Linked DNA regions of Homo sapiens: regions 2, 3, 4 and 5 are each linked to region 1. Evidence: fine-mapped expression QTL. A gene starts in region 1. Each other region holds a variant in brackets. All regions are shown on one strand. Distances are between the middles of the regions.

Region 1 (4,885 bases):
TAGCCTGAGGATTTAAACTTACATCCTTCCAATTTCTAACCCTATGTGATCTCTTGCAAAAAAAAAAAAAAAAGAATTTCCAAAGAATTGTCTAAACTGACTGAAGTAGATTGAAAATTATATCCTGTCATTCTAATAAATTAATCCAGTGTTATAGTGGATTTACATAAAGCAAGGTATATGCTCACATAAAACACATCCCTTCAAAATATGGTGGGTGCATAGTCTTTAAAAAAATGAAAACCCCAACACTCTTTACTTTAAAATGGGTACAGCATTTTGCTATGTTATTGTTTAAGGTCTATATTTTTCTAAAAATCCACAGTTGCAGATTTGACTCAGCTGTGTGCTTTCAGATCTTGTATGCTAAGCTACTCAGGAACTGTTGTCTATGGGATTGAACACTTAACAGCTGTCTCTGGGAATGTAAATTTGATTCTTTGGACTGCTCATGGGACTCTGTGACATTTTCCTCTCCAGTGACAGCAGATTTGAATGGCATTAGGCTACTGATTAAATAATACCCAAGTAAGTTTAATGTCAACTTAGGCATCTATTTTGCATGTATTTTTTCTGAAATAATCTTTCTCTAATTGCGATCATATTTTCATTATACTTTAGTCTTTTAATATCTTTAAAATATGCTCTTTTAAACAGGTCTTATCTGAACCCTTTCGTTGGTAATCTTTTTCTGAATTGTCATATTAGAGTGTGAGTGTGTGAGAATTAAGGTTGAGAAATAAATTAGCTTAAATACAAAACAGCTATCTACAAAATAGATATTCTTAACCAAAATAATATGTCTTTATACTACCATTTTATATCGTGCCACCAAGATAAAAGGTCGCAGTTATTTAAGGGAATTACCTTCTTAAGTTTCATGAAATCACTGTGAGTTATTCTTTTCTAACTGAAAGCATAAATTATAAAGAGATTGCACATGGTCATTTCTACTTTATCCTAATTAAGTGGTCTGAGATTTGAAAAAAAAGTAATAGACTTACAATATTTTTATGACTTATTTTTTAAATAAATATGTCAGTAAAAACTTCCCTGGGGAAAAAAAATTCTTGAGGAGAAAAGAGTGTTTGGGGTTTTTTTTTTCAGTTGTATGGCACTGCTTGCAAATGAAAGGATTCGTTGTGTGCCTCACATGCCCAAAAAGGACAGCACGAGCATTCTAACTTAAGGACTGGTTTAAATATGACCTAATGAACTAAATATATTTCTGTCTGGTATTCTTAGGTTACTTTACTTCTAAGGTTGTTTGAATGCATTTATCCAGCTCTCCTATCAAATACATGCCAGGTTAACCCTGTGAAGGTTTTCCTGTATGATTCTGAGAATTTCTTTATAAGAACAGGGTCTTGATAGTGAAGGTTCTTTCCCCAAAGTGCAAGGCCTTCTATTTTGATTCAATATCAACATAATGCTTTTTTTTTTTTTGAAAGTGACTTAAGTACTAAAGATTATCCTCAATAGTAATTCTACTTAGACATATTTTGGTTGAAGAAATTTAAAGAGTTTATTTTTTGTAGGAGCACTGTGCTGTGATCATGAAATTTTTGCAAAACTAACAGAAAATGATAAACAGTTAAGAACTTCCAGCTAGAACAATAGGCTGTTTCCTTTTTTTAAGTCAGTTTGTCATCCTTGCTGATTGACAGTCTCCAATTGTTTTCAGAATTATTAGTCTCACAGTATTTCAGAATTACGCTGTATAAAAAAGTACATTAAATTTAAACTTAATAAAATAAGTTTCGCAAGCTCAGTCAAGACAGGGAAGTGAGAATATGATTATTCTTCCAAATTTACTATTTCCACCAGCGGTCTCAGTTCAGCATCTGAGAATATGTTAGGGGAAACTCAGCAAGTCAGTTCCTTTTGTTTTTCTGGCCTCTGACTTACTTGGATGGGAAATAGCCAAAAAAAAAAAAAATGCTGAATATCTCAGATATAGGTAATGGGTCTTCACCAGAACATAAAAATAGACCCTTATTAGCCATATCAGTAATGTGCTGTGTGGGGGATTTTTTTTTTCTTTCAATTCCTCTGGCAACAAACCACACACTGGGATCTGACACTGTAGAGTGCTTTCTCTTCTCTTTTTTTGGGGGGGGGAGGGGGTGTGGTTGCATATTTAAACTCTCACGCATTTATGTACTGAGGACTGCAGTGTAGGACTTTCCTGCAGAATACCATTTGATCCTATTAAGAATTGTCCAAATGTTGGAGCATTTGATTGAAAAATCCTTCTTAGCCATTTTAAAGGTAAGTTGTATGATTTTTCTTTAAATAAAAAAGATTAAGGGATTTTTCCCATCACCCAGATGACGGGAGGTGACACTACTGTATAAATACTCCTAAGAAGTTATATAGGAGGACAGGAAAAAAGGTAGTAACTGTTTTCTTAGTCACTAGGCTTTATCTAAAAATCAGGTTTGCATTATTTTCAAGTTATCAACCTTCCTATATTTTATGCTTAAACCATACCCAATGGCATTTCATGTCGTATGTATAAGTTAATATTTAAAGTGATTTATAATCCAATTTGGATTATTATAAAACTTTCATTTTATACTTAGGCTATTTATACATGATGTTTAAATGATGAAGATCATTATACTGCAGACCAATATAATGAGGTTAGATGTTATAAATGACTTACAGCTCTTATGTCAACATGTTGTCTAATATGCAATTATTAACTATTACTTTACAGAGTCATTAGCTTGTTTAATTTTCAATCTGAATTGCACAACTTTTGGTATACCTGACTTGCTCTACATGATCAAATGCAATGTGTATTTTGGATATGTGCTTTTTAAGTTCTTTTCTGTAATGAACAAAGATATTGTCATTGTTACTGGGAATAGCAAAGTATATTACTTTTAAATAATCTGAAATTTAATTAGTGTAAATTAGTAGAATAAAAATAAAGTTAATTTTTTTTCGATTCAGGAAGCTTATTACAAATAGTACTGAATTATTAGATGATGATGCCAAGTTGAAGTAAAGGAGAAATCAATTTGGAGGAATTAAGTAAAAGCCTCAAATTAATTATACATTAACTAAAATTATAAATAACTGTAAATGGCATAAATTCTCTAGAGTACATCCCAGTTTCTGAAATCATCAAGTAGCATATTGAAACCTGTTTTGTAAAGATTTGCATGTACTTTTTAGTCTTTTTCTGTGTGGTTTGAAGTCAGTAATGTGTGTTGAAGCTAAAAAATATTGCTTTAAATATTGGTTCACAAGGAAGCCAAAATGAAATATTTAAAAATGTTTGTTATATAGAAAGTCCAGTGGTCCTTTGGAATTTACAAGAAAATAAGAACTAAAGTAGAAATCATTTAATTTCCCAGACTCATTAGTGAACCAGAACAATAAACCAAACAGAGAACCATCAGATAATGGGTTAGCCTGGGAAGAATATTAATTACAACTGGAGGTACTTGCACAGAGTGTACTGAATTTGGAATTTACCTTGGAAGTTATAGTTGCCACCCTATTTTTTTAAGGAATTTTTTTAACCTTGTTTACTTTAACACATTTGAACCCTGCATGTGTGTGTATTTCCTGTGTGTTTCCTGAAAAGGAAAGTTTAAGATAATTCTGTAACTATCAGATACTTAATTCTGTAAGTATCCTTGCATCTAATCAGAAGATGTTTTTGTTCACTGGCCCAAGATGTGTCTGAAACTTGCAAGTAGCATTGTTCTAAACTAGTAGCTGTCTTTCCATTTGCATATTTTAATTCCATACATATATGATCACATTTCATTATAATCTAACTATTTTGCAAATACTCATTTCTACTTTTGTAAAATATACACATTTATTAGATTTTTAAAACACTTGGCCAATATGAAATAACACTTTACTGTTATGGTTTGAAATGATACTTCATAGTAATATTTCAAAATAACAATAACATTTTCTACAATATAAATATATATTATTTTACTTCATTTAATACTTGCAACCTTATTTGATGTAAGTAAACTCATTTTAGAGAAAACTGTATCACAGACAAACTTCAATACTAACACCCAGAACTGAATCTACATTTCTTGGCTTCAAGGTCCAGCATTTTTGGCATTACAAACTTTATAGTGTCTGTTTATAGTAGAATTTGGGGTGTGGAAAAAAGACATTAGCATTCTTGTCTAAGGTTCAAAAATTAAGAATGGGTCTAGATAATACTCTTTAAGTCAGTATGAACTTAAGGGAATAATTTCAAACCTACAGTAATCCCTGGTTCATAAGTCTTTAAAAGACGGGACTTGTTTCTAGAAGGATCCCAAGTATAATATATAAAGTCCAATGTATTTATTGCATTAGTTTTTAAAGACTACCATCAAAACAAGTTACAAATTGCAATATTTGAGAAGTATGTAATTATTTTATATTACAGATGTCTATCAAGTTTTTTCCTATTTTACATTTTTACCATCATATATTCTGATAGGATAGAAATGGACATGAGATAATTTCAGTAAGATAAGATTCTGGAGATCTCATAGTCCAGTTATTTGAAAATTACTTGTGGAGCCCATGGGTTCTTTGGAGATGACTCAGAGCCCAAGTGAAGCGTGACTGGGAAAGGGAAGAGGCACAGTTTCTGCTCCTTTCTTTTACCAAATAACTCTTCTTTGAACTATCTTTTATATTGGTATTGTGCATAAAATTTACCTTGAAAGGAGAATTCTATCTCTAAACATGATTTTATAAAGAATGACCTAATGACCTTATGTTGATGAAACATAATCATAGTTAAATGATTGTTTTACACCCATTTCTACTACCTTGAATTTGAATCTACATTTTTACTCATGTATAGGGAACTGTGTCTTTATAAACATACATAGTTATGATAATG
Region 2 (4,885 bases), 38 kb after region 1:
ACCATTGTAACAATAGCACAAATAAAGCACTTGTGCCAAAGTTGTCCAAAATTGACTGGTTCATTTCTCAATTATATAGCTAGTTATATATTATCTGATACTTAAAAATAATTGACTAGGAAATGGTTTCATAAGACCAGGATTGCTGCATGTAGACATGCTGGCCGTGCATTTTCCAAATCCAGAAAAGTCCTGAACAAAAATTTGAATATAATAGTATCAGGAAATAGGGGAAAATAGTGTTCAACATAGTAGAACCAAGTACTCAGAGTGGTGTACAAGAGTTTAGGCCTCTATGCTTTAGATATTAGTGTCCATGCACTCTTAAAGATGAATGAATGCCTGACCTTTCCTAAAGGAAAACCTTTTTTTAGTTATCACAGGTAACATTGGTGTTGCCTGTGGGGGAGAATTTTTTACTTTCTCCCTATTTTTCTTCAGCCCACCTCAAGGCAATGTAAATAAAAGCAGTATGTGTGTTATAATAACTTATTTAGTTGTTTACTGTGTGCCAGTACCATGCTAAAGAAAGATTCTTTATCTCACATGATCCCTAATACAATTTCATGATTTTCCAATAGCCTGGATTCATCAGCATCCATTCTATCTTCTAGAGATGTTCCATGAAATCATACATTTTAATTGTTTGTGACCAAAGCATAAATCAGTGAAAGTGGAATTTGGGGACCAATAATTTCCTTTTGTGAGATGGAGAGCTTGTGTTTGAAAAGGCAACCTAATTTTTGGTTCTAATCACTTCTACCACTATTTAGTCACCAAAAAGACAATAATTCTGCATCCAAACTATTTGGACAGAATGGCTTCAAAATGCTAGCCTAAAATGTTCACATTATAAAAAGTTAAATATTACCTTCAATACCTGTCAGTAGCCTACTGACAAATTATGACTAAACAAAGGTATTTGTATGACTATGTAATAGATCATCCGCTGAAAAGTAAAACAAAATAACAAAAAAACTTGTCCTAATGGGAAAGCATGCTTAATAAAAGGAAATGCAGAAGTTATAAACATGTTTTGTAAGTAAGTATTCAGAATTAAAATTATGTGATACATTTTTATGATTGCTTAATGATCCTTGGATGTCAGATTCCTTGGGTCTATTTATAGCTAAATTATAATGAAAAATTCAAGGCTTGCTGGAGCAACTTTGTCAACAAATATATTAGTTTTGCTTATATATTTGATTTTTATGTGGAAAAATTACTACCCTTTTTTACAAGCAGAGAATAAACTGTTGATTACTTGATTTACTAGATTTAGAAGAATCACAAAAGATATGTAGATTTTCTTAAGCAAAATTCAGCTCTTAATATCATAAAAATTATATCTTTGGGCAGATTTGTAAACAATAGGAACAAGTAAGAAGACAGGTATGTAAGAAGTAGCAAAGTGTAAGACGGTGGAGCTTTAATGTGTGGTTTTACTCAGGGGGTCACAAGAAAATAACCCAATGGTCCTTTTGAAAGTAGTACATACACCTTTAAATGGAACTTGGTCTGAAGGGTGTGGAAATGCTGGTCCAGGGCAGATGCACTTCAGCTACCGTTCCTTGCCTGGTGTGTGCTTGTCTTGAAGCACCCTTCTTATGTGCCTTTCTGGAATGGGAATGTGTTTTGCCCTATTGGTGAAGTCCGTTAGAGAACTTCTCTCTGCAGCTAGAGAAACTGAACTGATTAATAAAAAGTATGATATCTAAGATATACTGCCACTCTACAGGTAGTAAATGATTCTTCACATTTGTGCGCCAGCTACATCATGACCCTTGGTAATACCGACCAACAGGATGAAAATTGGATATGCTTTACTTTTACAAAGCACACCTTATCTTTTAGTTGAAGAAATGGTGGCACTATTTCTTTTTTTGCACTAAGCAACTGCACATTTCAAAAGGATTATTGAGATGTTATGAAAATCTCTACCTTGCACAAAAAAAAACCCAGCAGCTTTTAAAATTCATCATTTCCACAACTGAATTGATTTCCGTTTCTACAGACCTGGCTCAAGCACAAACCAATTTGTGTTGTTCTGATTCAATAATTGGTTTCTGGGTGGCCAATTCAGAAGAAGAGTGTACATGCTCAACAAATCCTAGGCCCTGCATTCCTGTCATCCTCATCCGGGGGAAACACCATCATCCCAGTAGCTGCCCTATTCAACTGCAACAGTCTCCAGGACCATCAGTATACTGCATTTCATGTGCACCAAATATTTTGAAAGACATTTATAAATAATTGGCTTATGACTCATATTTCTCTATGAATACCTTCATACAGCAGGTATAACTCTTTTCTTTATGGGCTTAAATATTTTGTCACTGATCCTGCAAATGGACATCATTTTAGCACACTAGCGGTTTATATTTTAAGGACCTTCATTCTCTGTTCTGCACCTCTTCTGGAAATTGAGTAAATTTTGCTTTTTTTTTTTTACTCAGTTGCAACTTACGCTTGGCATCTTCAGAATGCTTTTCTAGCATTAAGAGATGTAAATGATAAAGGAATTATTGTATGAAATATTACAAAGCGTAGACTATGCATTGTTATTCATTATAATATTTTTTGCTGTCATAATCGCCTCATAAAGACAGGTTTCAACCATTAAAATATGTTCTTCCTTAAATTCCTGTGCTTTTTCTAGTTCCT[C/G]TTGTGTCATAAAATGTTTATCCTAATTTTCTCTCTGAAGTATATTTTATCTGAATCCACATTTCTTTATAAATCCATAGTCCTTGCTGAAATATGCTTTCTAAATTTCTACCACTTTGTTCTAGGCTAATTTTTTAAGCTAATTGGATGAAGAACAAAAAGACATTTGGTTTCATCCTTTACAGCAGTAGGACAATTGCAAAGGTTTTTCCTTTTTCATAAGGAGACACATTAATAGGTAACTCTGTTTCTTGAGCAGGGGTTCACTTATTCTGAGAGCATTAGTTCTCCTAAAAAGCTCCAGCATAGAAAGGGAAGATAAACCAAATTCTAGCTTGTGTTTTACCCACAGAAGGATACAGGACAAAGGAATAGTAACTGGCCTGTTTGGATACTAAAATCGAAAATAACTTTTAGCCTCCTCCTTATGATAGCCGCCAGAGTAAATGTTGAGCATTACTACAGAAAAGCCACAAACCAAGAATCTACCTGTTTGGAAAGATCTTTTGCATCTCTGAAGGTGCTTAAAGCATACTTAGTGCCTTTCCTTTTAACTGGGAAGATAAAAGAAGTATCTGTCCAAGATATTAATATGTAAGATAACATTGTAGACATGTTCTTCTGATAATACAAGGTTTATTCTATTTGCATTAGGATATTTGTGGACATGTCCATCTAATATAAAGGAAAGTTTTTTAATCATTGAGGCATGTAGGGCTGAGTTATATAATGTAGAAACTTCTAAAGATAATTGGATGAGAATATACATATTGACCTGTATATTATGACTAATCATGACTCAGATCTTAATACAGGGATGATCTCATAGCATTTAGATATCAGAAAAGGTTTTGACCTATATGTCTTTAATATTGTTTGAATACATGTATAATCTTTATCATTCCTCAGTGTTTCATTTCTCAAATTCTGTAAAAGGAATATAAGAGGAAAGACAATTCATATACAAAGACAACGAGATTAAAAATATGCAGTAGGAAAAATAATTACTTAAGGGGAGATTTTTTTTACATGAAATCTGGGCTTTGGATGTGTGTGTGTGTGTGTGTGTGTGTGTGTGTGCACATATGCACTGTGGTGGGAGTGGGGCAACTTGGGGAATATGTTACATGTGTGACTTTGTTTTGCCCTGGCGAAGTTAATGTTGTTCAGAAAGGGTAAATGTTTGGACACTTGCAATTGCTCATGGATGAATTTATATGTTTTAGTCATAGAAAAATTGTACCCTTTGATAGAAGCACATTTTCTTTCCAAAGCTGGTTATTAACCACAGAATTATAGCAGGTATTCATAACTTAAGTTTGAAAATCAATAGCGTCTGCAAATGGATTAACAGATTAGAGAATCAACAGCATCGGAAAATAGGTTAATGCATATTGCTTCTAACAAGTGCATGAAGAAATAGAAGAAGCTATGTAGCTTTCAGTTCTGACAGAAAAGGGTGAAGGAGGGTATCATTTCAAGAAAAAAAATAGCTATCACGCAATGGTTATCTCTGAAAATATTTGTATTAAGATGTGTATACATGGCCAGGCATGGTGGCTCATGCCTGTAATCCCAGCACTTTGGGAGGCAGGTGGATCACGAGGTCAGGAGATCAAGACCATCCTGGCCAACATGGTGAAACCTCATCTCTACTAAAAATACAAAAATGAGCGGGGTGTGGTGGCCCATGCCTGTAGTCCCAGCTGCTCGGGAGACTGAATCTCTTGAGCCTGGGAAGCAGAGGTTGCAGTGAACTGAGATCGCGTCACTGCACTCCAGCCTGGTGACAGAGCGAGATTCCATCTCAAAAAAAAAAAACAGTATGCACGTACAAATTTCTTAACCTGTTATCAATGTCTGAGCTACATAATTATCTTTCTAGTTGGAGTTTGTTTTAGGTGTGTACCAACTGACATTTCAGTTTTTCTGTTTGAAGTCCAATGTATTAGTGACTCTGTGGCTGCTCTCTTCACCTGCCCCTTGTGGCCTGTCTACAATTCTAAATGGATTTTGAACTCAATGTCGTCGCTTCTGGTTTCCTGCATATACCAATAGCATTACCTATGACTTTTTTTTTCCTGAGCTATTTTCACTGAGCTGAGCTAATGAACTAAAACTGAGTTATGTTTAATATTTGTATCAAATACATAAAAGGAATACTGCTTTTTCCTTTTGTGGCTCAAAGGTAGCTGCATTTTAAAATATTTGTGAAAATAAA
Region 3 (4,885 bases), 160 kb before region 1:
GTTTTGCTTTTGTTTAATTAAACGATGCTAGCAGCTTCTGTTGGCGGGGAGAGGGGGAGTTCATCAAAAGAACTATATTTACACTTTTTCACACATATGCATGAACAGAAATAGAAAATGAGTAATTAGATTGTATTTACATATGCACACATCTTGCAGGCATATAGTAAGGGGCTATGTTAGGAACCACTTGCTAAAATAATTGTTTTTTGGGGTTAATTTGGTGACAGGGTCTTGCTCTTTTGCCCCAACTGGAGTACAGTGGTGCAGTCTCTGCCTACTGCAGCCTTGACCTCCTGCGCTCAAGCAATCCTTCTGTCTCAGCTTCCCAAGTAGCTGGGACTACAGGCACATGCCACCACACCTGGCTAATTTTGTATTTTTTTGTAGCAACTTGGCTTTGCCATGTAACCCAGGCTGGTCTCAAATTCCTTACTTCAAGCTGTCTGCCTGCCATGGCCTCCCAAAGTGCTGGGATTACAGGCGTGAGCCACTGTGCCCAGCACTAAAGGAAAATTTTAAATCACTTTGATAATGAAATTATAAATAGTGTCACAAGCCCCTAATTTCCTTATGGTTAATTAATGCTAAATGGATGATACAAGCAGTGAAATTTATAGAATTTTTTGAGACTCCAAAAGAATCTCCTAGTATACAAGTATTTTGGAAATCATTTCATTAATTTCTTCTAGAATTTTGTATCATGGTCATCAACCCAATGAGCCAAGGCATGTGTCATTAATGAAATTAATCTAGGAGATGATTTCACTAATATGGATAGAGATGAAATGAATAGCCCAAAACCTCAGTGTGCATGTCACCAGTCTGTGTTAGTGTGAAAGGCTATGCATAAAGGTTAACACTTTTTAATCAAGAGAAGATATTTGCACCATAGAATCTTCTCAGGCAGTTTCAAACTTAGTTATTTAAAATGCTCCCCTGGTTATATTTTCTTAAATCTCATTATGTCACCTTGTTCATTTTCATTTCTCTTTAATTGCTTTTTATTTTACTCTAATAAAATGTAACACCATTTATTTTCCTCATTTGAATTTACAAATGCAAAGTATGCAGAATTATAATTCTTAATTTTAAATGTTTTACCTCCAATTCCCCTTAAAGTGAATTCACTTACTAAGCTGCTGAGTCATTGAGCTGATATTCAGATGCCCTTTCAAAGCAGGCCTGAATTCCTGGATCTCTCCACAGCCGTTTTATTACCTCAGCCAGTTGAGGTGTCATGCCACCATCTTCCAGGGTATTTGCCATTGCATAAAGTTGTCGTTGGTCCTCCTAGAACAATATTTTGGTGAGAATAAGTATGTATTATTTGGAATCACATATTCTATTTTCTAATAGAGTAATTTACTGGGATAATTTTAATCTTATTCTTTTAGCTAATAATTCCACCAAACATCTTTTTGAACTATATTGAGGTAAATAGAACTAAAGTTTTTCATGGCTGGATGATGCCCAGAAGAGTTCTCCTTTGCAAAAACTATAAAATATTATGTGAAGAAATTAGCATATTTTGAAATATGTCACTGACTTCTGAATATGATATCAAGGAGGATAATAATACTTTGCTGTAGTCATACTAAGTTTGCAAAAGGTCTACATATTATACCAAGGTAAAATAAAAATTAAGCTGATTTAATCTGGTATCTTCTTCTTTTTTTAATCATCGCCATGAATTTTTCTAGAAAAAAAAAGCCAAGTAAAAATTAGAGTAGACCGGGCATGGTGGCTAACGCCTATAATCCCAGCACTTAGGGAGGCCGAGGTGGGTAGATCACTTGAGCCCAGGAGTCTGAGACCAGCCTGGGCAACATGGCAAAATTTTTCTCTACAAAAAAATTAGTCAGGGATGTAGTACATGTCTGTAGTCCCAGCTACTTGGGAGGCTGAGGTGGGAGAATTGCTTGAGCTTGGGAGGCAGAGGTTGCAGTGGGCAGAGATTGCACCACTACATTTCAGCCTAGGTGACAGAGCCAGACCCTGTCTCAAAAAAAAAAAAAAAAAAAAATTAGAGTAAAAATGGAAATAAATTCATTATTCTAAAATTGTATTGTTTCAAAAAATTAATATATAATGTTTTTTTGTCATCGGGTTACTGCCTCGTAATCATATAAAGAATGGTAAACATTTGGATCCACATAATATTTTTGAACATCCCTGTAGGCATTGTTGATTGCATATGCCTTTGGAACAAATCAGTAGGACAGAGGTGAGAGTTTTTTATGCAAAGCAAGGAATTATTGTCTTAGTCCTGTTGGGATAACATTTGGAGGTTACCAGCAAAGAAGGAAATAGAAGTTTACTGAGTAAATACTATAGTCTGCAATTTATTTAAACAAATAATCAAAATAGCTTTATGACAAATCATTTTTTAAAAAATTAAGATGTTGAGTTTCAGAATAACTAAATTGACTGTGGTAATAGCCCAGGCAAATGGAGAAGTCTGAACTCAACCTTGTTGTCAGCCTCTAAAACTGATATCTTTTTTAGCTCATAACCCTCCTAGTGCATATTATTACAATTTACA[A/G]AACTGCACATGCAATATCACACATAATCCTCACAACCATGAGATAGACACTATATTTTCTCCATTTTACATGTGAGGAATCTAAAACTCAGAGTTTTAGAAACGAGTAAACCAGTAAATACAATAAGTATCAGAATAAGAGTCAAATACAAGCGCATTTTGTGCCATGTCAGGCTGTTACTGTTACAGGAAAGGGGTCCCAATCCAGATCCCAAGAGAGGGTTCTTGGATCTCACACAAGAAAGAATTCAGGACGAGTCCATAGGGCAAAATGAAAGCAAGTTTATTCAGAAAGTGAAGGAATAAAAGAATGGCTACTCCATATACAGAGCAGCCCCGAGGGCTGCTGGTTGTTCATTTTTGTGGTTTCTTGATGATATGCTAAACAAGGGGTGGATTATTCATGCCTCCCCTTGTTAGAGCATATAGGGTAACTTCCTGACATTGCCATGGCATTTGTAAACTGTCATGGTGCTGGTGGGAGTATAGCGGTGAGGACAAGCAGAGGTCACTCTCATGGCCATCTTGGTTTGGGTGGGTTTGGGCCAGCTTCTTACTGCAGCCTGTTTATCAGCAAGGTCGTTATGACCTGCATCTTGTGCCGACCTCCTTATCTCACCCTGTAACTTAGAATGCCTTAACTGTCTGGGAATGAAGCCTAGTGGGTCTCATTCTCATTTTCCTCAGCTCCTATTTAAGATGAAGTTGCTCTGGTTCAAATGCCTCTGACACTACCAGTGAAGTATGTTCAATAAGAACTTGCTGCTTTTCTGATACAACTCAGCTTATTATTATTTTGAATTGACTACAGTTTTTTTCTACCATTTTATCAAAAATCTGTTCTTTGTATAAAAAATAAGGATATGTCACTTATTGTTAAAGAGACACTGGTAAGGGTAAAAAAAGAAAATAACTTATTCTATCTTTCTTCACAATCAGCTTTTATTGTTAAAAGTAAACTGATCAGATGGTCATTGGTCCACATATTCAATGTGTAAACCAAAAACAAAATTCTAAGTCCCCCAAGCAACAGAATTCTAAGCCCCGCAACCAACAGAAATCCCTCTTGGCCAACAGAATTCCAAAGTAAACCTGAAAAACTAGGTCAGGCTGTGATAGGAAGGGTGGGGTCAGACATGCCTCATTAGGCCCTCCTCCCTTTGGAATTCAGGCATAACTCACCCGCATTAACATTGAAACAGAGATCTTAGGACTGATAAAACAGAATCTTTATAGCAATAAGATTCCAAATTCCAAACTGACTCCAGTATAGAGCAGGCCCTGAAAGAAATTATTTTACCCCCAAATATATTTTTTTGGCATATATAAAAGAATAAAAGAAAATAACAAGAAAATAAAAGCTGTCTTTTGTGGGGGAAGTTTACATTGTGTAGAGAAGCCCCTTCCCTTTTCAAGGCCTTTTCTGATCCTGGTGAGATTAGCTGAAAGTCTAGCACTTTTTAAAGGTCTACATAGGAAATATTTGCCATCTATTGCCTCTAAGGGTGCCACCTATGAGGCTTCATCTACATAATAAGAACCTTGGTCTCCACAGACTCTTAACCTAGAGACTCCTTTCTACTGATTCTAGGCCTTTAGACAATAACTTAATTCTTTCAACCAATCAGAAAATAACTTAATTCTTTTCAACCAATCAGAAAATGTTTGAATCCACCTATGACTGGAAGGTCCCGCTTCAAATTGTCCTGCCTTTCTGGACCTTGCATGTATTGACTGATATCTGCCTGTAACTTTAATCCCCATAGAATGTATAAAATCAGGCAATAACTTAACTACCTTGGGCATATGTTCTCAGGACCTCCTGAGGCTGTGCCATGGGTCATGGCCCTCACATTTGGCTCAAAATAAATCTCTTCAAGTATTTTACGGAGTTTGGCTTTTTTGTCAACAAATGGCCATATCAAGTCTCAACCTGATTTTCCTGCATCAACACAGGATAGATTTTTAAAACCCCATTTCTCTGTTAAATGGATATGAAAGAGAACTGCAAGTTCAGTGAAATATGCTCTGGTCACTTTCACTAGCATCATGCTATTGGCTCCTTCCACTATTAAAGTGCTGTTTAGGAGGAATGATGCCATAAAACAACCACTACACAGTTTTATCCCTAAGGAGAAAAAATTATATATCTTGTCAGCATAGCTTTACAAACCAAACAAATATACTGTTTCATTTCTTTCTGTTTTTCTTTCTTATTTTCTTTTTCTTTTTTCTTTCTTTTTCTTTTTTGTTTTTTTGTTTGTTTGTTTGTTTGTTTTTTGAGACGGAGTCTTGCTCTGTCATGCAGGCTGGAGTGCAGTGGCACAACCTAGGCTCACT
Region 4 (4,885 bases), 500 kb before region 1:
CTTTGAGAATGTTTTAATTTATCATCCTTTTAAGGGCAGTAAGATTAAGCTTATGCTTTATTTCGGTAGGTAACTATAGTATACTACTTGTACTTATGAAATATTATTTTATTATGTATTTGGAGGACATAAGATTTGACATACAAATAAATGATCATGAATTTATTTTCTGTTCCAAAGCTTTGAGCAGTATTCTCATTTATTCCACCTCACTGTCCTTCCTTCCGCTCCACTCCCCCTCATATACAAAATTCCACACCCTTGTCTCCTTCTTCAGCTTGGTTTAAATATTCCAGGTTTGGGGGAAAATGAGCTGAGGGATTGGATTTCTTCTGTTTGGTGGATATTTTTCTATTGCTGCCACCAGGCAGCCCTTTGGGATGCTGCATCATTAATCTTCACTCCTTTTGAACTTGCCCTGTGACTTCCCCTAGTTGAGAAATGTTGGCTATGCAGGGCTTTTGATTTTTCATTGCTTTGACTTTCTTAGAATTGGTTTAGGATCTTAGATGTCAAAAAGCCCATTTCCTTGAATAAACGGATCCGGTATTTCAGTATGGGTTGTGTGCTTCTTTCTCATGGCATACCTTGTATTAGTTACTTTAGTAAGAAGCCACAGGTTTTGGAATTGCTGATTTTTTTCTGTACCTTCTGTTTTTCATTTTCATATTCATAGTTCAAGTCCTTCTCTGCCTCTGGCAGCCTAATTCCAATAGGCTCTCTTGCATCTTGTCTTTCCCTCTAGCCTGTTCTTTCTACTGCAGATATCATGCTGCTTCCTTGCTCAGAAACCTTTGTTGACTTTTCCGTTTCCTGCAGAATAAAATCTTTTAGACTTGGCTTCCCTCTAGCCTTATACTTTTTCCTTAGGGCACCCTTCTCCAAACAGAAACTGTTGGCACATGTTAAAGCATATTTGCACTTGATTTCTGGTATTGTTTATCCTTCTGCCCAGCCTATTTTCCTACTGCTGTGGGCACTTTAAAGGCAGAATTTTTGTAGGTTTTCTTTGAATACCTAACAACCCTTCTATTTTATTATGTGTAAAATGGCTTCTTAATTATGTAAAATTATTATCTTGCTGGAATATAAACTTTGTGCTCTGCTGTTTTCAATATCAATGAGAGCAAATAACTGTCCAGCCAAATTATGTAAACAAAAAAGGAATAGTAAATTATGTGATGACCACAGTGAACACATGGCATCTAAAATCAAATTGTTTGGTTTAAGATTTTTTTTCATATTTATAAGAGCTTTTCACAGTCATTGTATTTGATAAATTAAAGTTGAGAAAATGATAATGGATATTCATTGGAGGAGGATCTGCTATGTTGCAATTATGGCACTTTGCCCTGCAATTTTTTTTTTTTTTTTTTTTTTGTAAAGGTAGATCTCATTTTCTAATTTTTATTTTTGGCCCCAATTTCTTTTTTTTTTTTTTTCCTTTTTTTTGACGGAGTCTTGCTCTGTCGCCCAGGCTGGAGTGCAGTGGCGCAGTCTCCGCTCACTGCAAGCTCCGCCTCCCGGGTTCACGCCATTCTCCTGCCTCAGCCTCTCAAGTAGCTGGGACTACAGGTGCCTGCCACCACGCCCGGCTAATTTTTTTGTATTTGTAGTAGAGACGGGGTTTCACCGTGTTAGCCCGAGTGGTGTCGATCTCCTGACCTCGTGATCCGCCTGCCGCGGCCTCCCAAAGTGCTGGGATTACAGGGGTGAGCCACCGCACCCTTTGGCCCCAATTTCTAATGCATAAAAAGTATGACTGTTGTTGAATGTCTCAGTGATAGGAAACATGCCTATCTTACAGAATTTAATAGATGTTATTTAAACCTGAAAAAGACTGCTGTAATTTTTTAAACAGAAATTGTGTATTCAACCACAATCAATTTTTATTTTGTTACACATGTCTAACTGCCTTGGAAAATTCTGTGTACAACAAATTCACACAGGAAGACCTGAGTGTATTTGAGTGTGTTTGTTGCAGATTTCTTGGTCACATGTTCTGGCATGCAGTTAACCAATGTATGACTCCCCAGAGTATGACACAGTGAAGTTCAGATCCCAGACTCCATTTGAGTCTTACGAACTAAGGTCAGCTCTACCTAATCTTTTAGTGCTCAGACTGGTTTCTGTCATAACTTGTTAGTGCCAATTAAAAGCCGTAACGGAAATAGGGCAAAAA[A/G]TTTTTTTTAATGAATGTTCATTACCATAAACGTAGTGACAACACAAAATTTATTGTCATACAGTTGTGGAGGTTAGAAGTCCAAAAAGGGTTTCCACTGGGCTAAAGTCAGGTTGTTGATAGGGCTTCTTTTCTTCTGGAGATTCTAGAGGAGAATCCATTCCCTTGCCTTTTTCAGCTCTACAGAGGCTGCCTGCTTTCATTGGCTCATGGTGCCTTCTCCATCTCAAAGCCAGCAATAGCTGGTGGAGTCTTTCTCATGTGGCATCACTCTCCTGCCTCCCTTTTTCACTTGGAAGGACCCTTGTAATTACATTGGGCCCACCCACATAATCCAAGTTAATAGTCCCATCTCAAGATCACATCTGCAAAATTCCTTTTGCCCTGTGAGGTGACATATTCACAGGTTTCAGGGATTGGGACATATTTATCTTTGGGGACCATTATTTTGCCTTCCACAGTCCGCCCTCTGGCTCCCAAAGGCTCATGTGCATCCTGCATGCAAAATGCATTCACCCTCTCCCAACATCTCCAAAAGTCTCAACCCAATACAGCCACAACTGACTGCAAAATCTCAACCAGGGCTCTTGATCTAACTCAGGAATAGGTGAGATTCTGGGTGTAATCCATACTGGGACAAAATTCCTGTCTGTTTGTGGACCTGTGAAACTAGCAAACAAGTTATCTGCTCCCAGAATATGGTGGGTCAGGCATAGGTTATCATTAAATGGAAAGAAAAAAGGAGTCTCTAGTTTTGAGCACTTTCAAAACTCCTTTAGGTTTCAAGGACTGGGGATAGTTCTCTGTGACTCTTTACTCCACCCTGTGGGTACTGAACTTCTCCACTCTTGGGAGTCATCCTTCTTTTCTAATGAAGGGTGTAGCACCTGTATGCTGCTGATTACTTTTATCAGCCTGTTTCTTGCCTCTGGAATTATGGTGGTCTGACAGCATTATTTCATTTCATATTCTTTTACTTCACCTTTTTCCTGTCCCGTTTTACTGTAACCAGCAAGAAAAAACAAAAACAAAGAACCGGCCACATCTTTAATACTTTGCTTGGAAATCTCTTCATCTTAATGTCCAGGTTCATAGCTTACAAGGTCTGCTTTCCACGTAACTGCTGGACTTAATTCAGCTAAGCTTTCTGCCTGTATATAGCAAGGATCCCCTTCCTCTAGTTTTTGATAACATGTTTCACCTTTCTTCCCATCCAAGTCCTCATCAGCAGCAAATTTAAGCTCCATGCGTCTAGCAATAGTATGTTCATGATAATTCACATATTTTCTAAGGTGATAATGTGTCATCTACCATGCTTCTCACTTCGTTCTGAGCCCACACTGGGAGAGACATTAACATCGTATTTCTATTAACAGTATGTCAAGACCACCTAGACTTTTTCTATTATGCTTCTCAAAATTCTTTTAGCCTCTGCCCATTGCCCATTTCTGCATTTTTAGGTGTTTGTTATAGCAGCACCCCATTTCCCATTATCTTCATCAGTATCTTATATATCACTTTTGAAAGTGCAAAATAATTGTAATTTTACATTCTCCAGTCCCTCATAATTTATGTGACTATCATGGTAACACTAAAAGCACCAGTTTCTTACATGTCATATTGAACCCATGGTGTTACTCAAGTCGTAATGTGAAAGAATAAAGCTTTTCTTTGCCTCTTCTTTATTGACATTTTTCCTGATCATCCAGTCTAAATTAGTCTTCCTTCGTCTCCCTTCCTACTAATACCATATTGAAATCATCTTGTACTTTTATTTTTTATTGTCTGTTGCCTTTCTCTATGGCATTGGCCCCATCAGAGCATGAATCTTGTCAGACTTATCATCTGATGGGATGGCACATAGTAGCTGTTTCATAATTGTTGGTTAAATTAATGGATAAATTGTTGAACATTAATTTTGACTAGTTTTCTTTTAAAGGGAAAAATTGGTACATATTCTTTGTGCCTTGGGTATTTTGAGTGAATTTTAGCCCAATATATATCTTGCTGGTTTAGAGTAATGAAAACCTACTACATTATTCCTAACACATTTCTAAAAAGTAAACTAATTTTGGGGACCATATTCTTGTTGCATGATCAAAATCATGATTCTTGGTAAATAAGTGGTAGAGTGAAATGTGATTTTCATATTTGAATATTCTGGGAACTTTGTTTTTAACAGTATTGCTGCCTTGCTGTTTCACATGTTATTTTGCTGCTTTCTTAAAATGCATACACTATTGCAATGTGGCATTTAATATATACTCACAACTATATATTTCACACAGGATGATGTGACTCTGGTAAACCTCAGCTTTCAGGAGCCAGCAGGCTGCTCAGAGGCTCACCAGCAGACTGTTCTTTATGTCTTGCTTGTTCCTATGTGGTGAGGATGATCACTAGTAGCATTTGTAAGATGTGTTCCATGCTTTTCCTGTCAAATTACGCATTAGCCTTACCAGATCCTTAAGAGAATTTACAGTCTACTTGGGGAAATACAATATATACATAAAGATAAGTCCTCATAATGTCAAATGGGGAAGAAAAAATAAAATAGATACTAGGTAGGGGAGGTGAGTGTCAATATTGGGACTTCATTGTTGATCTTGGGGGGTGGAGGTGGAGGTAGCTTGCCTCTCAGATATTACTTTGGTTATAAATCTGTCAGTTGTTTTCATGTATTTCTGAACCTACTATTTAACC
Region 5 (4,885 bases), 31 kb after region 1:
TTCTATCATTGCCTTGTAGGAAATGATAAACAAAAAAAGCAAACAAAAAAAACAGCAAAAACACTGTTGGATTTGCAGGGGTTTTCTTTTGTTTTTTTTTTTTTTTTTTTTTGAGACATAGTCTGGCTCTGTTGCCAGGCTGGAGTGCAGTGGTGCGATCTCGGCTCACTGCAACCTCTGCCTCCTGGGGTTCAAGTGATTCTCCTACCTCAATCTCATGAGTAGTTGGGACTACAGGCATGTGCCACCACACCCAGCTAATTTTTGTATTTTTAGTAGAGACGGTTTCACCATGTTGGCCAGGATGGTCTTGATCTCTTGACCTTGTGATCCGCCCCCCTCGGCCTCCCAAAGTGCTGGGATTACAGGCTTGAGCCACCACACCTGGCCAAGGCTTTGCAGGGTTTTGAGCCATAGGAGTGGGCAAATAAGCTATTTTCTAAGTAAAGCATTTCTGGAAATAAATTTTCAAGTCCTCAATACTACCAATGCTAGTAGTTGTATAAGCGGAATACTTAGTCCTTAGATGCAGAGATAAATATACTGTGTTAATCCTAGTAAAGGATTCTTTAAGGAGAAAAATCTTTAAAAAGAAGATTCATTGACAATAATAGAAATGCATGAGCATCAGGCATGATGTTAAAAATATCTATGGGGAAAATAGGGCTGATACAAACTAGGAAAAGAGGGAATTTGGACAGAGCAGGGGATGATCCCTGTGAGAGAGATTCTTGCTTATGGCACTAGCGAAAAGAAAGTAATAAAACAGTAAGGTTCTAATGTGTTTTCATCGTAATTTAGAAGTGCATCCTCTTTACCTTCTTCAGTAAGTTTGAAAAGACTTAAAATGAAAGTATTGGTATACATTTAGAATGTTTCTTTTGGGAGGACAGAAAAAAAGCTCTGCAAATATCAACTATGTTGCAGTCATTGTCCATGGTAGTTGCTGGGTATAATTAGGACATAATCTTCAATGATATTTTAGATAATGATCTTAAAAGCTTTTCAATGCATTTTTCTTTAATTATTAAGGAAATGGAAAAGCAGTTGTTGTCAATGTCCATATGGGGGCTTATATTTTACTTGTCACAAGAGTGTAAACTAATGAAAACAAGGTCACAAGGTTGACACACTTGCCAGAGAAAGAACCTACAATGCATAATCAAAGATGAGACTTACCATTTAAAACTCATTCAATGACGGCTCGTATTAGTGATATTCATGTGAGAAGTACATGGAGGAGTTAACTATTTCTTCATATATCCAATGTTTGCCATGGATCATAGCTGTAGCAAAAAGTAAATTCAATAAATGACTTTTTTATACACTTTCAAAGCATTTGAAGTTCTGTTTAGTGAGAGAACTTTAGTAAATATTTTTAGAAGTAGTAATCAGCCATTAGGACAAATGAGAAAAAAAATCACTACAAATAAATGTGGACATGGCAGGAGATCCAAATGAACTTCACTGGAAGAAAAGTGCCACTCTACTGGTGGGGTAGGGCATTTCAAAAAACAAACACAATGTTAGCCTTAACATTTCATGTTTAAGTTTCTTTTATTTTGTACCATTAAATATGTATAGTATGTAGATTTGTTGTTGACAATAGCAGCCGCCAGCCATATGTAACTGTTAAGGACTCAAAATCTGGCTAGTATGATTTGAAATGTGCTGTAAATATAAAATGCACAGTAGATTTTGAGACTTTAAGAATTTAAAATATTTTATAATGGTTACATGTTAAAATATTTTGGATATTAATAAGTTAAATATAGTTTTGTTTTGTTTGAGACAAAGTTTTCCACTTGTCGCCCAGGCTGGAGTGCAATGGCATGATCTTGGCTCACTGCAGTATCCGCCTCCTGGGTGCAAGCAATTATCCTGCCTCAGGATAGCTGGGATTACGAGCGCCTATCTCAGGATAGCTGAGGCAGGCCTATCCTGCCTCAGGATAGCTGCCTCCCAAGTAGCTGGGATTACAAGC[G/A]CCTACCACCACACCCAGCTAATTTTGTGTATTTTTAGTAGAGATGGGGTTTCACCATGTAGGCCAGGCTGGTCTCAAACCCCTGACCTCAGGTGATCCACCCGCCTTGGCCTTCCAAAGTGCTGGGCTTGCAGGCATGAGCCAGCATGCCTGGCCGGTTATTTCTTTTTACCTTTTAAAAATGTGGCTGCTAGATAAATTACTTAGGCAGTTTGCATTACATTTCTATGGACTACACTGGAGGAGAGATTTCTAGGTTTTTTTCTAGAACACACATTACATCTAATCATTTGCCACTCGATTTTTAAACAGATGCAGCCTCATTTCCACCTTTTGTTGAGAAAAGCCAGGTATTGCAGTTCTTTTCTTCTGATATTTGCAGGTAAGACAGATACTGAAGTATAAGTATGTCTGAGTCAGACCCCAGGTGACAAAATGCAGACCAAGAAACTTAAACACAGCATAGGAAATTCATCATGTTTATTAACTAACTCTTTGCAAAATGTTCTTCTGCATCTTCCAATTTTTAATAGTACAAATTTTTTTTTTTTTTGCCATTTCTATCTAAGCAAGAACCATTTTGCCTTTTAAAAACTAAACTAGTAGTCTATTAACGATCAAGTCCAGAAGGGCGTGCCCAATCTTTCTAAAGACATACAGAGAAGATGATGCAAATGTAACAGAACTGTGTTAATGTGCTCTGCTCAGATTTGTGGGGCCCAGTAGATAACACACAAGCACTGGAGCCTTTACCACTACCCTTGAGCCCAAGCTCTGTCCCTAAAGACTGTATGCTTGTGGGTAGGCATTTAACATCTCTGAATTTTTTTCTTATCTGTACAATTTAAGACAGCAGTATTTCTTCATATACGTGTATCTGGGGATAAGAAAAATATGTGTATTGAACCCTATGATAGACACTTGGTAAACGATGGAAATGTACCAGGTATATATCCAGCATGTATATGCATACACTCCAGTGAGTGGTCTTTCTTTCCAGGATTAATTAAGCCGTGAAAGAAACTATTTCATTTAAACTGATCACAAATAAAGTATTTGAAGGAAGTCCTATAAATATTTACTCTATTGGATAAATTGCCTGTGAGAAGTAACTTGAGTATAAATAAACATGGTACTTCACAAACAAGAATAGTTCATGCTTGGCTATTGAGTTTTAGTATGTGTTAAAATTTCCCAATCACTTTTTTTCTAAGAATGAAACAAGAATTTAAAAGAGTATATGATGTTTCTAAGTTAAAACAAGAATAAGAAAAAATGAATCTCCAGAATGTAAGTTCAGGTTCCTGGAATGCAGCTCTTTTTTCTCTGTATTTAGGTCAATCTATGCTGTATTTGAATCCGACGTTAATCTGAAAGGAATCCCTGTGTATAGATTTGTTCTTCCATCCAAGGCCTTTGCCTCTCCAGTTGAAAACCCAGACAACTATTGTTTCTGCACAGAAAAAATTATCTCAAAAAATTGTACATCATATGGTGTGCTAGACATCAGCAAATGCAAAGAAGGTGAGTAAATAACCTCAGTAGCACAGTCCATACCATAATTTGTGATATTCTTTAAGATGAGAACTTTACCATAATCCTTTAGCAACCAAAATTTAAAATATATCATAATTTGTGATATTCTTTAAAATGAGAACTTTACCATAATCCTTTAGCAACCAAAATTTAAAATTAAAGTAAGAAAGTAATTAGGGCAGAAGAAAGAATGGTGGCAGAAAATTTTAGTGCTGATTTTGTATTTTGGGAAGATCCCACTTGTGTTTCAGTATTACAAAATTTAGTTAAAACCACACCAGTATTTCCTTGTGGCTGCTTTTAGATTTAGGGTGAAATGAAAATAATTCCGAGAACACATTAAACATCCTGTTATTCATCTGTCCTAACTTTTTTCACTAGAAAATGGTACAGGTAAATGTATTTTCAGTATGTATCTAAAGCTAGAGTTAAACATAAAATTTGGAGACTAGCTTATCCTGTACATATTTATCATACTAACGTGGGTGTGGAAGAAGAAAGAAAAAACTAGTGTTAAATAAATTCTTAGTCCATAGACATATTACTGCCTGAAAGCTTTACATATTGAAAATTAATACTGAAGGAGTTTATAGTAGAAATCAACTGACATAATTCTTCCCCACCCATGTTAAAAACCATGTATTTTTTAATGCAAGAAGCTTTAGTTTTGTGGAAATATTTTTTGAGTTATATGTGAAATGAAGGAAGTTATTAATTCCAATTGACTCTTAAAACTTGTCTTCAGGGAGACCTGTGTACATTTCACTTCCTCATTTTCTGTATGCAAGTCCTGATGTTTCAGAACCTATTGATGGATTAAACCCAAATGAAGAAGAACATAGGACATACTTGGATATTGAACCTGTAAGAAAACACCTTATTGATCTGATTTGGTTGATATTTTTAAAAATACAATTGAAATAAAAATAATCTTGTCGATGATTATTTATTCAATAAATAATCATATTTATTGAATCACATTCTTGAAAGTTACTGAAACTTAGGTCGATTTCTTCCTATGGTTTATGAAGTGATTCTAATTGGCTTAAAATAATTTTATATAAATATTTATGTTTAGATGAGGAGTTATTGTATATTATGCAAAAGTCAAAGAGTATATGTGAGTTTGACTATACTTATTGTCAAAATCTATAAAATTGTTGTAGCGCAACAGTTTTAATCATCTTTATTTTTGTATTTTCCTTTTCAAAAAGTAAATGAAATTCTAGGATTTTAGTAGTTATGTTTTAGTTTAAACAATGACACATGGATTCTAACTGAATATATATTTGACCAGGAATTATCTGAGATCTTATATTTTGTTGCTGATTTTTGATTTTTTAAAAACCATTTCAAGTAACTCAC

Evidence for each region. PIP is the estimated chance that this variant, and not a neighbour inherited with it, causes the effect. A credible set is the group of variants that fine-mapping cannot tell apart.
Region 2: its variant is the best candidate, but not a certain one, in a credible set for the expression of CD36 in whole blood (TOPMed, PIP 0.88).
Region 3: its variant is the best candidate, but not a certain one, in a credible set for the expression of CD36 in whole blood (TOPMed, PIP 0.67).
Region 4: its variant is the best candidate, but not a certain one, in a credible set for the expression of CD36 in monocytes after LPS (Quach 2016, PIP 0.88).
Region 5: its variant is the best candidate, but not a certain one, in a credible set for the expression of CD36 in whole blood (TOPMed, PIP 0.52).

Annotation. Positions count from the first base shown.
Region 1 is chr7:80,636,476-80,641,360 of GRCh38, forward strand. It overlaps CD36 (CD36 molecule (CD36 blood group)), which reads left to right and starts at 2,167. Exons shown (of 15, transcript NM_001001548.3): 1 at 2,167-2,271.
Region 2 is chr7:80,674,370-80,679,254 of GRCh38, forward strand. It overlaps CD36 (CD36 molecule (CD36 blood group)), which reads left to right. Exons shown (of 15, transcript NM_001001548.3): 15 at 2,015-4,885. Among named protein-coding and RNA genes, the nearest start is that of CD36, 38 kb to the left of the region's middle. The variant C/G (reference allele first, on the strand shown) is at 2,665.
Region 3 is chr7:80,477,706-80,482,590 of GRCh38, forward strand. GNAT3 (G protein subunit alpha transducin 3) reads right to left here. Exons shown (of 8, transcript NM_001102386.3): 4 at 1,136-1,293. Among named protein-coding and RNA genes, the nearest start is that of GNAT3, 32 kb to the right of the region's middle. RefSeq lists an enhancer at 1,068-1,362. The variant A/G (reference allele first, on the strand shown) is at 2,546.
Region 4 is chr7:80,138,552-80,143,436 of GRCh38, forward strand. All of the region lies in intron 1 of GNAI1 (G protein subunit alpha i1), which reads left to right. Among named protein-coding and RNA genes, the nearest start is that of GNAI1, 6.2 kb to the left of the region's middle. The variant A/G (reference allele first, on the strand shown) is at 2,183.
Region 5 is chr7:80,667,657-80,672,541 of GRCh38, forward strand. CD36 (CD36 molecule (CD36 blood group)) reads left to right here. Exons shown (of 15, transcript NM_001001548.3): 9 at 2,297-2,366; 10 at 3,321-3,508; 11 at 4,266-4,384. Among named protein-coding and RNA genes, the nearest start is that of CD36, 31 kb to the left of the region's middle. The variant G/A (reference allele first, on the strand shown) is at 1,985.